2 separate regions of the Homo sapiens genome follow, and region 2 is linked to region 1. Evidence: fine-mapped expression QTL. A gene starts in region 1. The other region holds a variant in brackets. All regions are shown on one strand. Distances are from middle to middle.

The links.
Region 2: its variant is fine-mapped to the expression of UGDH in whole blood (TOPMed, PIP above 0.99).

What each region holds. Positions count from the first base shown.
Region 1 is chr4:39,524,569-39,530,013 of GRCh38, reverse strand. It overlaps UGDH (UDP-glucose 6-dehydrogenase), which reads left to right and starts at 2,575. Exons shown (of 12, transcript NM_003359.4): 1 at 2,575-2,731. UGDH-AS1 (UGDH antisense RNA 1) reads right to left here and starts at 2,175. Exons shown (of 5, transcript NR_047679.1): 1 at 1,676-2,175. RefSeq lists an enhancer at 1,691-1,750 and silencers at 2,131-2,430, 2,681-2,860.
Region 2 is chr4:39,501,521-39,506,520 of GRCh38, reverse strand. It overlaps UGDH (UDP-glucose 6-dehydrogenase), which reads left to right. Exons shown (of 12, transcript NM_003359.4): 8 at 773-903; 9 at 1,151-1,284; 10 at 2,013-2,104; 11 at 2,536-2,646. Among named protein-coding and RNA genes, the nearest start is that of UGDH, 23 kb to the left of the region's middle. The variant T/C (reference allele first, on the strand shown) is at 2,288.

The DNA.
Region 1 (5,445 bases):
CCCATTACATGTTAACATAAATATCATATTTTAATGAAAAATTACTATATTTTAAAAACAAAAGATAAGATTGGCATTGTTTTACATTTTTGTAAATCTCTAATATCTGACTTAAAAAACAGCTTAATTCTATTTGCTTTGATAGCACATTATAGTCTCCACAAAACTTCATTGTACACTTCTGAGAGAACAAGAGTGAAAAAAGCAAGTAACACATGAAAACTTTTTGACCTCATGGATCCCAGAAAGAACCTCGGAGATTGTCTACAGTCCCCAGCTCACATTTGGAGAACCTCTGTCCTAAATCCAAAGGTCCATTCTAGCTGGCACTGAAAATTGACTTAATTTCTGAAATCCTATTAACCGTTTTGAAGAGTCTGATTCTACCAAAATACTAAAAAAGAATGTGAGGTGAATACTAAATAGAAAAATGTTGAATTCAAAATGAAGGGACTAAGATAAGTGGTTTTTATTACAAAGCAAACTGTATTAGATAACTTAAATCTATGTATGTTCAAAAAGATGTACTTGTCATATCTAGTGCAATTACTTGTTTACATATCTCTTCTACCCAACCTGTGAGCTTTGCAAGAAGGAAATGAGTCTTTTTTGTTTGGTTATTTTTCTGAGACAGTGTCTCGTTCTGTTCCCCAGGCTGCAGGGCAGTGGTGTGATCTCGGCTCACTGCAACAGGGAGCCTCCTGAGCAGCTGGGATTACAGGTGCCCACCGCCTCACCCGGCTAACTTTTTGTATTTTTAGTGGAGCCGGGGTTTCACCATGTTGGCCAGGCTGGTCTGGAACTCCTGACCTCAGGTGATCCGCCCGCTATGGCCTCCCAAAGTGCTGGGATTACAGGCGTAAACCACCGTGCCTGGCCAAAGGAATTGAGTCTTAATCCCTTTTGCATCTTCAGTCTTTAGGATAACGTCTGACACACAACAGGCATTAAATATTTGTTGGATGAATGAACTGAACTGCATAGAATGCAGAAAGCCTACATATACTGGCCAGGCACAGTGGCTCACACCTGTAATCCCAGCACTTTGGGAGGCCGAGACGGGCGGATCACCTGAGGTCAGGAGTTTGAGACCAGCCTGGTCAACATAGCAAAACCCGGTCTCTATTAAAAATATAAAAATTAGCCGGGCATGGTTGTGGGCGCCTGTAATCCCAGCTACTCGGGAGGCTGAGGCAGGAGAATCGTTTGAATCTGGAAGGAGGAGGTTGAGGTGAGCCGAGATCGCACCACTGCACTCCAGCCTCGGCGACAAGAGGGAGACTCCGTCTCAAAACAACCAACCAACAAGCCTACATATCCTGCCACACGTGCTACAATCCACAGCAAACTGTTTCATCCACATTCAACCACTTTCTTAAAGTCACCATCATGATCCTATCAAGAAAACCGTAATTTATATGGTATTTTAATGTGCCTTTATAAATTACTAATCACTTTCTTCATGATGTATGTTAAAATGGCTTATGTCACCTGATGTAATCCTTAATGAGGGAAATAAAAGGCCATGATTATGCCTGGCTTTTTTTCTTATATGTTAGATTTGAGTGTTAAAATGACCTCGAAGCGGCGAAAGAAAGGAACGGAACTGCCCTCCACATTAAAAATGAGCAGGCTCCATAGGTTAATTTTACTCTTCCTCACGCACGGCACTTACATGTTGCAAACTCTCTGCTCCACAGCACGCACAGACATCCCAAATCCCGGATTGGGCCTGAGGAACATCTCTGCAAAGAGCGCCAGGAGGGCGTGGGGGTCCCGCCTCTCTCGCCAGGGACCAGGGAGTGGACACTCACTGGTCCAGTCATGAGGAACTCAGCATCCTCCTGACGGGAGGCGCCTCTTTCCCAGAAGCGGTGGGTCAGGAGGAATCTGACTAAACCCTGGGTTGCCGGCCCGGAGGGCGCGGTTGACCCCGGGGCCTCGAGGTTGTGGGCGAGGAGTAATCCGCCCGCCGAGACCGACCCGCAGATCCAGGAGACCGAAACCCGAGGGCGGCGCTCCAGGGTGCTGAGGAGACCGGAAAGGCGGCCAGGACCTTCCGGTCGCCTCGGCCCACCACCCACCCAGTGTCCGCGCAGCCCTAAAGCCTGGCAGACGCGGAGCGCACGCGGCCTTTGCCTCGGCCAGGACAGGGCAGCGGGGAGAGGGCTGCTAGACAACAATTCTTGACCCCTCCTCGACCCACGACCGCCAGGTAGGCGCGCAAAGCTCCTACACCTGCGGCGCGCCCCCGTCCCCTGGTCCAGCGGACACGCCACGCACGCAGCCCCGCCCAGCGCCGCTCGCGGTAGGGGCGGAGCCGCTGAGCTGGCCAAAGCGGATTTGCCCAGCTAGGCCAGGGGCGGGGCAGGCCCTCCCAGCCAGGACCAGCCCCAGTCTCCCCGCCCCTGAGCCGTGAAGGAAATAGGGACCTGGCCCTGGGCCTTGTGTAGCGGGAGGGGGAGCTAGGAAGCAGCTGAGGGCAGAATCCAGGAGGGCCTGGCTGCGGGGGAATGAAGCCTCCGCCTTCGCAGGCAAAAGCCTTTAAATACGGGCTCAGGCCCGGGACTCAGAGTGTAACGCGTGGCAGCCTGAGGGAGGGGCGTGCGCCGAGAGGGAGCTCAGATCGAGCGGGGCGCGGGTGGAGAAGCTGCGGCGGCGCGGCCCGTAGGAAGGTGCTGTCCGAACGATCGGGATAGGAGCGGTCCCTGCGCTTGCTGCTGGGAAGTGGGTAAGCGCCGCTCCCAGGCTGGCCCCGCCGCCCGGGCGGGATGCTCCCAGGTCTGGGCGGGATGTGGAGGGAGCGGGGCTGGGGTGTGCGCGCTGCTCCCGGTCGCTCGCTGCGCTGGGTCCCGGGCTTCCCGTCTCACGACCTTCGTCTCTTTGGGGCTTAGGGCGGGAACCGCATTTTGGAACTGCTGTCCTGGGGATGTGGTCGTCTGGGCTTCTTATTCAAGACTCGTGAGTCTTCCAGCCCCTTCTCTTTCTGCCTTTACCCACTTTCCTGACTTGGATGAGATTTCCCTGCCGCCTCCAAAGCCGAACGCCCACCACAGGAAGCGGTTCTCTCGTTGGGGACCTCATTTTGGCCGCAGAGTCGTAGTCTTTTGTTTGTGTTTAAGAGTCTGCTCACCTGAGGGGCTCCTGCTTTTCTCATGCCGCCCCTCTTAAGAAACCAAAGAGAAACGAAGCCAGAAAGCCCTCTTGAGAGCAAAATACTAAGACTGCCGTGATATCTGTCCGGGATGTCCTGGAATCCATTGTTGGCCCCCTACACCACAGAATTGCTCTGTTTGATGTCGGGGAAGGCCTTTCCTGGGTGCCTCGGGAGACCATGTTTGTGTGAGATCTTGAAAAATTATACGTCCTATAAATATATAGGAAGATAACTTAGTAGGGTTAGGAATTCTAGTATAGAGAAAAGAGGGGTTCGCTGGTAGGGATCTATTCATGGGCATACAGAGCAGTAGCTGTCTATCGACAGACCTCAAAGACACAGTGAGCCTTTGAGTTTCTTCAAATCCCTTAAGAAATGGAGAACAGTAGTCTTTCTTCAGGGGGGTTCTGGAAATGAAAGAGCTGACTGTCTGCTCTGAGATGTGCTTATTAGTGGCCAGGATCCAGTTTAAGGTAAGGGGTAGACAACCCTGATTGAAAAGATCTCATTTCTTCTCCCGTTGCTGTACTCCTTTTTCTAACAAAATCTATAACTGGATAAGCATAATCCATCTTCCTTCTTGTTTACTTCCACAGCTTTACATGATAACCCTTAGACATAAAATTAATACCGGCTTTCTTACTGATTAAATATTTTTCTCTGGTCAGGCATCTTTTACTGTTTAATTTCTGGAAATGATTAAAATGTGTGAAGCTGATGTATCCAACTATAATGCCCATCGTTAGCTCCTGGGTACCTATGCAAAATATGCTGTAGAGAGCTGGGGCTAGAAGGATTATATTCCGTTTAGATTGTAGTAGGGCATTTGTTATTTGTTAGTGACCCCTTCTGGGTTGGAATGTTTATTTGAATTTATGAAATTTTACATGAAGAGTAGTTTTGGAACGGTTTGGTTTGTTGTGACTCTCCCAAAATACAGAGGTAAAAACTCATTTCAAAATAACCCATTTAATAAGGAAACACTCCTATGTCTCTGACAGCAGAATAGAGGGCCAGAGGGTACATAAAAGTAGAAATAGAAAATGGGGGCCGGGCGTGGTGGCTCACGCCTGTAATCCCAGCACTTTGGGAGGCCGAGACGGGCGGATCACGAGGTCAGGAGATCGAGACCATCCTGGCTAACATGGTGAAATCCCGTCTCTACTAAAAATACAAAAAAAAATTAGCCGGGCGTAGTGGCGGGCGCCTGTAGTCCCAGCTACTCGGGAGGCTGAGGCAGGAGAATGGCATGAACCTGGGAGGCAGAGCTTTCAGTGAGCCGAGATTGCGCCACTGCACTCCAACCTGGGCAACTGAGCGAGACTACGTCTCAAAAAAAAAAAAGAAAAAGAAAAGAAAATGGGGCTGGGCGCAGTGGCTCACGCCTGTAATCCCAGCACTTTGGGAGGCCAAGGTGGATGGATCACCTGAGGTCAGGAGTTCGAGACCAGCCTGACCAATATGGTGAAACCCCGTCTCTACTAAATATATAAAAACTAGCTGGGCGTGGTGGTGGGCACCTGTAATCCCAGCTACTCGGGAGGCTGAGGCAGGAGAATTGCTTGAACCCAGGAGACGGAGGTTGCAGTGAGCCGACATGGTGCCACTGCACTCCAGCCTCGGTGACAGTGAGACTCCGTCTCAAAAAGAAAAAAGAAATAGAAAATGGAGTTGGCAGACATCTGTGTCATGCAAAGTGTGTCACTAACACTATGTCAAACTCCATGTTAAAGCTTATTGAAGATTTTATTGAAACTTCCAAGTGAGCATTTATTTGGACTTGCACAGATTGTACATCAGCCTTTTCATTGATTCTCCCATTGTCATCGGTAAGCCGTATTTCATGGGAAATAGCAAGGCGAGAATACCCAAAATAAAGCTTGTGTAAAACACATCCAGTTCTGTGATACAAGTTCACCTGCCATCAGTAGTCTATCCCAGCTGATGTATGTAAAGCAAGTTGAAATGTGGTCTCACAATCAAGGCAGATAAGAAGTAACTCTGGGGAAACATGCTGAAGTTCTTTAGGTAACTCAAAAAAAGAACTTGGCCAGATGCGATGGCTCACACCTGTAATCCCAACACTTTGGGAGGCTGAGGCAGGTGGATCAACTGAGGTCAGGAGCTTGAGACCAGCCTGGCCCACATGGTGAAAACCTGTCTCTAGAAAAAATACAAACATTAGCTGGACATGGTGGCGGACACCTGTAGTCCCAGGTACTTGGTACTTGGGAGGCTAGGTGGGAGACTCACTTGAACCTGGGAGGCGGAGGCTGCGGTGAGCCCAG
Region 2 (5,000 bases), 23 kb after region 1:
TTTCCACTGAAACTGAATTTTTGTGAATAGTGGGGCACAAGCAAATGAAGGAATACTTTGGGGTTTCATTGCTTGTAGCTTGTTTCCACAGAATTTGGAGACACGGACTAAGGATAGTATGGTTTCCTATGTGCCTTATTTAGGTTGGTCTCATAGCTGAACCTCAAATGCGCTTAGAATTAAAACTTGGTTGTGCGCTCCACTTTTGGCATCCATCCTAGCCTTATGCATAGAAAATCAAGCCAAATGAAATTAGAAATTTTTAGAATGGCTTTTTTTTTTTTTTTAAATTTACGGCAGGGTCTGGCTCTGTCGCCCAGGCTGGAGTGCAGTGGCATGATCTCGGCTCACTGCCACCTCTGCCTCCTGTGCTCAAGCCATCCCACCTCAGCCTCCCAAGTAGCTGGGACTACAGGCACATGCCACCTTGCCTGGCTAATTTTTGTATTTTTTGTAGAGACAGGGTCTCGCCGTGGTGCCCAGGCTGGTCTTGAACTCCTGAGCTCAAGCAATCGCCCACCTCGGCCTCCCAAAGTGCTGGGATTACAGGTATGAGCTACCACTGCTGGCCTAGGATGGCTTTAAGGAAGGGGATGAGTGATTTTTTTTTTTTTTTAATCCATAGGCACTAGAGTTTGGTTAATTTTTGCCTCTTGTTAATATGTAAGCATTGTATTTGTACAATAGCACTCACCATAAAATTCTGAGTAATGTGTGTCATAGGCTGTGCCTCTTTTAACTAATCATTGCACAATTGTACATGTAATTTCAGGTCATAGACATGAATGACTACCAGAGGAGGAGGTTTGCTTCCCGGATCATAGATAGTCTGTTTAATACAGTAACTGATAAGAAGATAGCTATTTTGGGATTTGCATTCAAAAAGGACACTGGTGATACAAGGTATCAGTTTTTAAAAATATTTCAACCCTTTTGAGATTGTGTTAACTCCTCATCTTAATTTTTTGATTGGGGTAGGTGTACATAAAATACATGTATATATATAAAATATAAAGAATAAAAATAAATATCCATATCTTCACCACTCTACCAGCTTCAGAAATATAATTTTACCTGTATCTTAAACTCCCTGGTATTAGAATATAATGCCACATAAAGCTTACCAATACTGATTTTTTTTTTCCTATAGAGAATCTTCTAGTATATATATTAGCAAATATTTGATGGATGAAGGTGCACATCTACATATATATGATCCAAAAGTACCTAGGGAACAAATAGTTGTGGATCTTTCTCATCCAGGTGTTTCAGAGGATGACCAAGGTAAGGCTTTGAGTCTCATGAATCATTTTGAGTCCAGACCTGAAAACTTTTTATCTTTTGGAAACCTTAGGTTGTTCAGTTTTATCATGTATATCATTGGTAGGCCCTCTTTTCAACCTCATTTCTCTGAAATTAAAGTCTTAGGCATAATGTCATCAACATTGATTTGAAGTGATCAGCTGTGGATTGGTCCATTGATTTTTCCAACATACTCCACAAATCCCCAAAATTCCAAAGAGATGCTTCCAAAGCAGGGTTTGGGGCCTCCCACCATCACTCCCATTGATACTGCAATCAGATTATTCCCAACTCTTCCTGCAGTCCTAGTGTTAGAATACCTATAGTACTATCCCCTTATGTGTGGTTTTGCTTTCCACGGGTTCAGTTATCTGCGGTCACTTGCAGTCTGAAAGTACTAGAAGGAAAATTCCAGAAATAAACAATTCATAAGTTTTAAATTGTGTGCTGCTTCATCCTGCCTGGGACATTTATCATTCCTTTGTCCAGCATATCCACATTCCATATGCTACTTAGTCACTTAGTAACTTTTGGCAATCAGATTCAAAAAACAGGTATGTGTGTAAGTATATATAGGGTTCAGTACTCTCCACAGTTTCAGACATCTACTGGGGGTCTTGGAATGTATCCCTGCAGATAAGGGGGGAACTACTGTAATGTCATATAACTCCTTTCTTATTTCTGTTTTTTTGTTGTTGCTATTGTTACAGTGTCCCGGCTCGTGACCATTTCCAAGGATCCATATGAAGCATGTGATGGTGCCCATGCTGTTGTTATTTGCACTGAGTGGGACATGTTTAAGGTAAGGTAACAGAAAAGATACTAAGGAAAATTCTAGAGGTGTTCCACTATCAGCTGGGGTTGAGTATGTGTTCATGTATGTGTTTTTTTGTTTTTTTGTTTTTTTTTTTGAGATGGAGTCTCGCTCTGTCGCCCTGGCTGGAGTGCAGTGGCGCAATCTCGGCTCACTGCAAGCTCTGCCTCC[T/C]GGGTTCACGCCATTCTCCTGCCTCAGCTTCCTGAGTAGCTGGGACTACAAGCTCCTGCCACCACGCCCAACTAATTTTTTGTATTTTTAGTAGAGACGGGGTTTCACCATGTTGGCCAGGATGGTCTCGATCTCCTGACCTCGTGATCCACCCATCTTGGCCTCCCAAAGTGCTGGGATTACAGGCATGAGCCACTCCGCCCGGCCCACGTATGTGTTTTAATTGTTCCTGTGGTTTGTCTTTACAGGAATTGGATTATGAACGCATTCATAAAAAAATGCTAAAGCCAGCCTTTATCTTCGATGGACGGCGTGTCCTGGATGGGCTCCACAATGAACTACAAACCATTGGCTTCCAGGTAATCATGATCCTGGATTGTTTTTTTTCTTTTTGTTTGGTCTTTAGTGTTTGATTCAACAACTGGGGACTATAATCTAGTCAAGTTGACATCAAAAGACCATCACAGCAGGTCAGAATATGTTTGGCTAATTAAGATGATACCTTCTTTCTAGGGAAGTTCTTTTGGGGAACCAAATCAATATCAGAAGTTTATTTCAACAATTAGGAAAGTGCTCATTTGCTTTTTAAACCCATTGTGTGGGTTTTAGAATTTTCTTATTTTCTTTAGCAGTAACGTAACTCTGGGGCAACATGTCAGTTCTTTAGGAAGTCCCTATGGGATTTTTCTGACTACTCTACTTCTCTACTTCCTCCCTAAATTTGCGATCTAAAGGTAGAGAAAGAAAGAGGTCTTGGTCAATCAGCAGGTGTTCATCCTATACCTTCTGAGTACTCAGCACTGTGCCAGTGCTGTGAGGGGTCTGAATGAAACATATGGGAGTTTCAATGGTACTGGCCCTCTTCTGATTCAAAGTTTGTCAACTGGCCAGGCATAGTGGTTCACACCTGTAATCCCAGCACTTTGGGAGGCTGTGGAGGTAGACCACTTAAGGCCAGGAGTTCGAGACCAGCCTAGCCAACATGGTGAAACCCCGTGTCTATTAACAAATACAAAAATTGCTGGGCGCGGTGGCTCACGCCTATAATCCCAGCACTTTGGGAGGCTGAGGCGGGCGGATCACAAGGTCAGGAGTTCGAGACCAGCCTGGACAATACTGTAAAACCCCATCTCTACTAAAAATACAAAAATTAGCTGGGTGTGGTGGCACACACCTGTAATCCCAGCTACTTTGGAGGCTGAGGCAGGAGAATCGCTTAAACCTGGGAGGCGGAGGTTGCAGTGAGCCAAGATCACACCACTGCACTCCAGCCTGGGTGACAGAGCAAGACTCCGTTTTGGGAAAAAAAAATAATAAAAATTAGTCAGGCTTGGTGGCCTGTGCCTGTAATCCCAGCCACATGGGAGGCTGACGTGGGAGGATTGCTTGAGCCCAGCAGGCAGAGGTTGTAATGAGCTGAGATCATGCCATTGCATGCCAGCCTGGGTGACAGAGCAAGACCCTGCCTCAAAAAACAAAAAACAGTTTGTCAATTATGGAACATTTGGAAAGCTGACAGAAGCCTCCACCCAGAACAGTGTTTTTGTAGGTTACATCTATTTCAGTTCTCCAAGGAGTCCCAAAGGTATTAATAAGGAGCTATTTTCCATTTCCTCAGAGCAGTATGTATATGGGGATAGGAGGATGGGGAGGTGGAGTAAGTTAGGGAGAATAAAAAAATATGCCAGGGGGTTGTTGTCAATGTAGTGCCCAAGCAAGCAGAAAAGCAGCAGTGTTTGACAGCTTGCTATGCACATCTCAGCACCAGCTATCTTGGAGAGGTATCAGTAAGGCCTAATCTGCTATTCAAAAATATCTGATCTGGTTCTCTTAACCTCTCACCAACTTGTTGAAGGTCCTTATTTAGAATTCAGTGCCCATTTCTCATTCATGAGAGATTTACTTGTGGAAAGAATCAAATGGCATCCTTGTCTGTGAACTCTTCCATCCAAGACCTTGGGGACTCTTCTATTCCACCCCTCCCTAGTGAGTAACAACATGACTGTTTTTCCCAGTCATGACTAAACTCAGGAATGTTATTTTTAAAAGGTTATTTGCAAGGCATAGACACATTTTCTCTCATTCCTGTTTTACTCATCTAAGGGAAAAGATATGTAGAGAAATACATATTTTAAATGATTTTAAGTTATTGTAAAAGTTAACTTTCCTAGTGAGAAATTAAAAAAAAACAGGAATGGAATCACTAAATAAGGAGAATTTGTAAGTCACTGAGACAACTGGTTAATATAAAGCAGAAGCCCTTTCTTTGTGGTACGAGTCAGAATTAAATATTAGTTTTTAATTCAAAAGACATGAAAAGTGAGTAGTATGTTTATCTCTGCTGTGGAGGGGAGATAAATTCATGACTGTTGAAGTAGTAGTGTTTTTAATGATAAGATGATGATTTTGAATATATGGAATAAATGAAAAATGTAATAGGCAAAACCAAAATTGATTATCATTTAGTGAAGGCTGGCTTGCTGTATGCTAAGCACTTTACCTAATTTAATACTTACCACGACCCTTTGAGTTAAGTGGTGGTAACACAATTTACAAGTGAGGAAGAAAGACCTAGAGAGTTTAGGTAATGCAGCAAGTGCCAGTCAGGATTCCAGCTGGGGCCTTTCAGACTCTGAAGTCTGAATTCTTAAGAATTATGCTGGCCGGGTGCGGTGGCTCACGCCTGTAATCCCAGCACTTTGGGAGGCCGAGG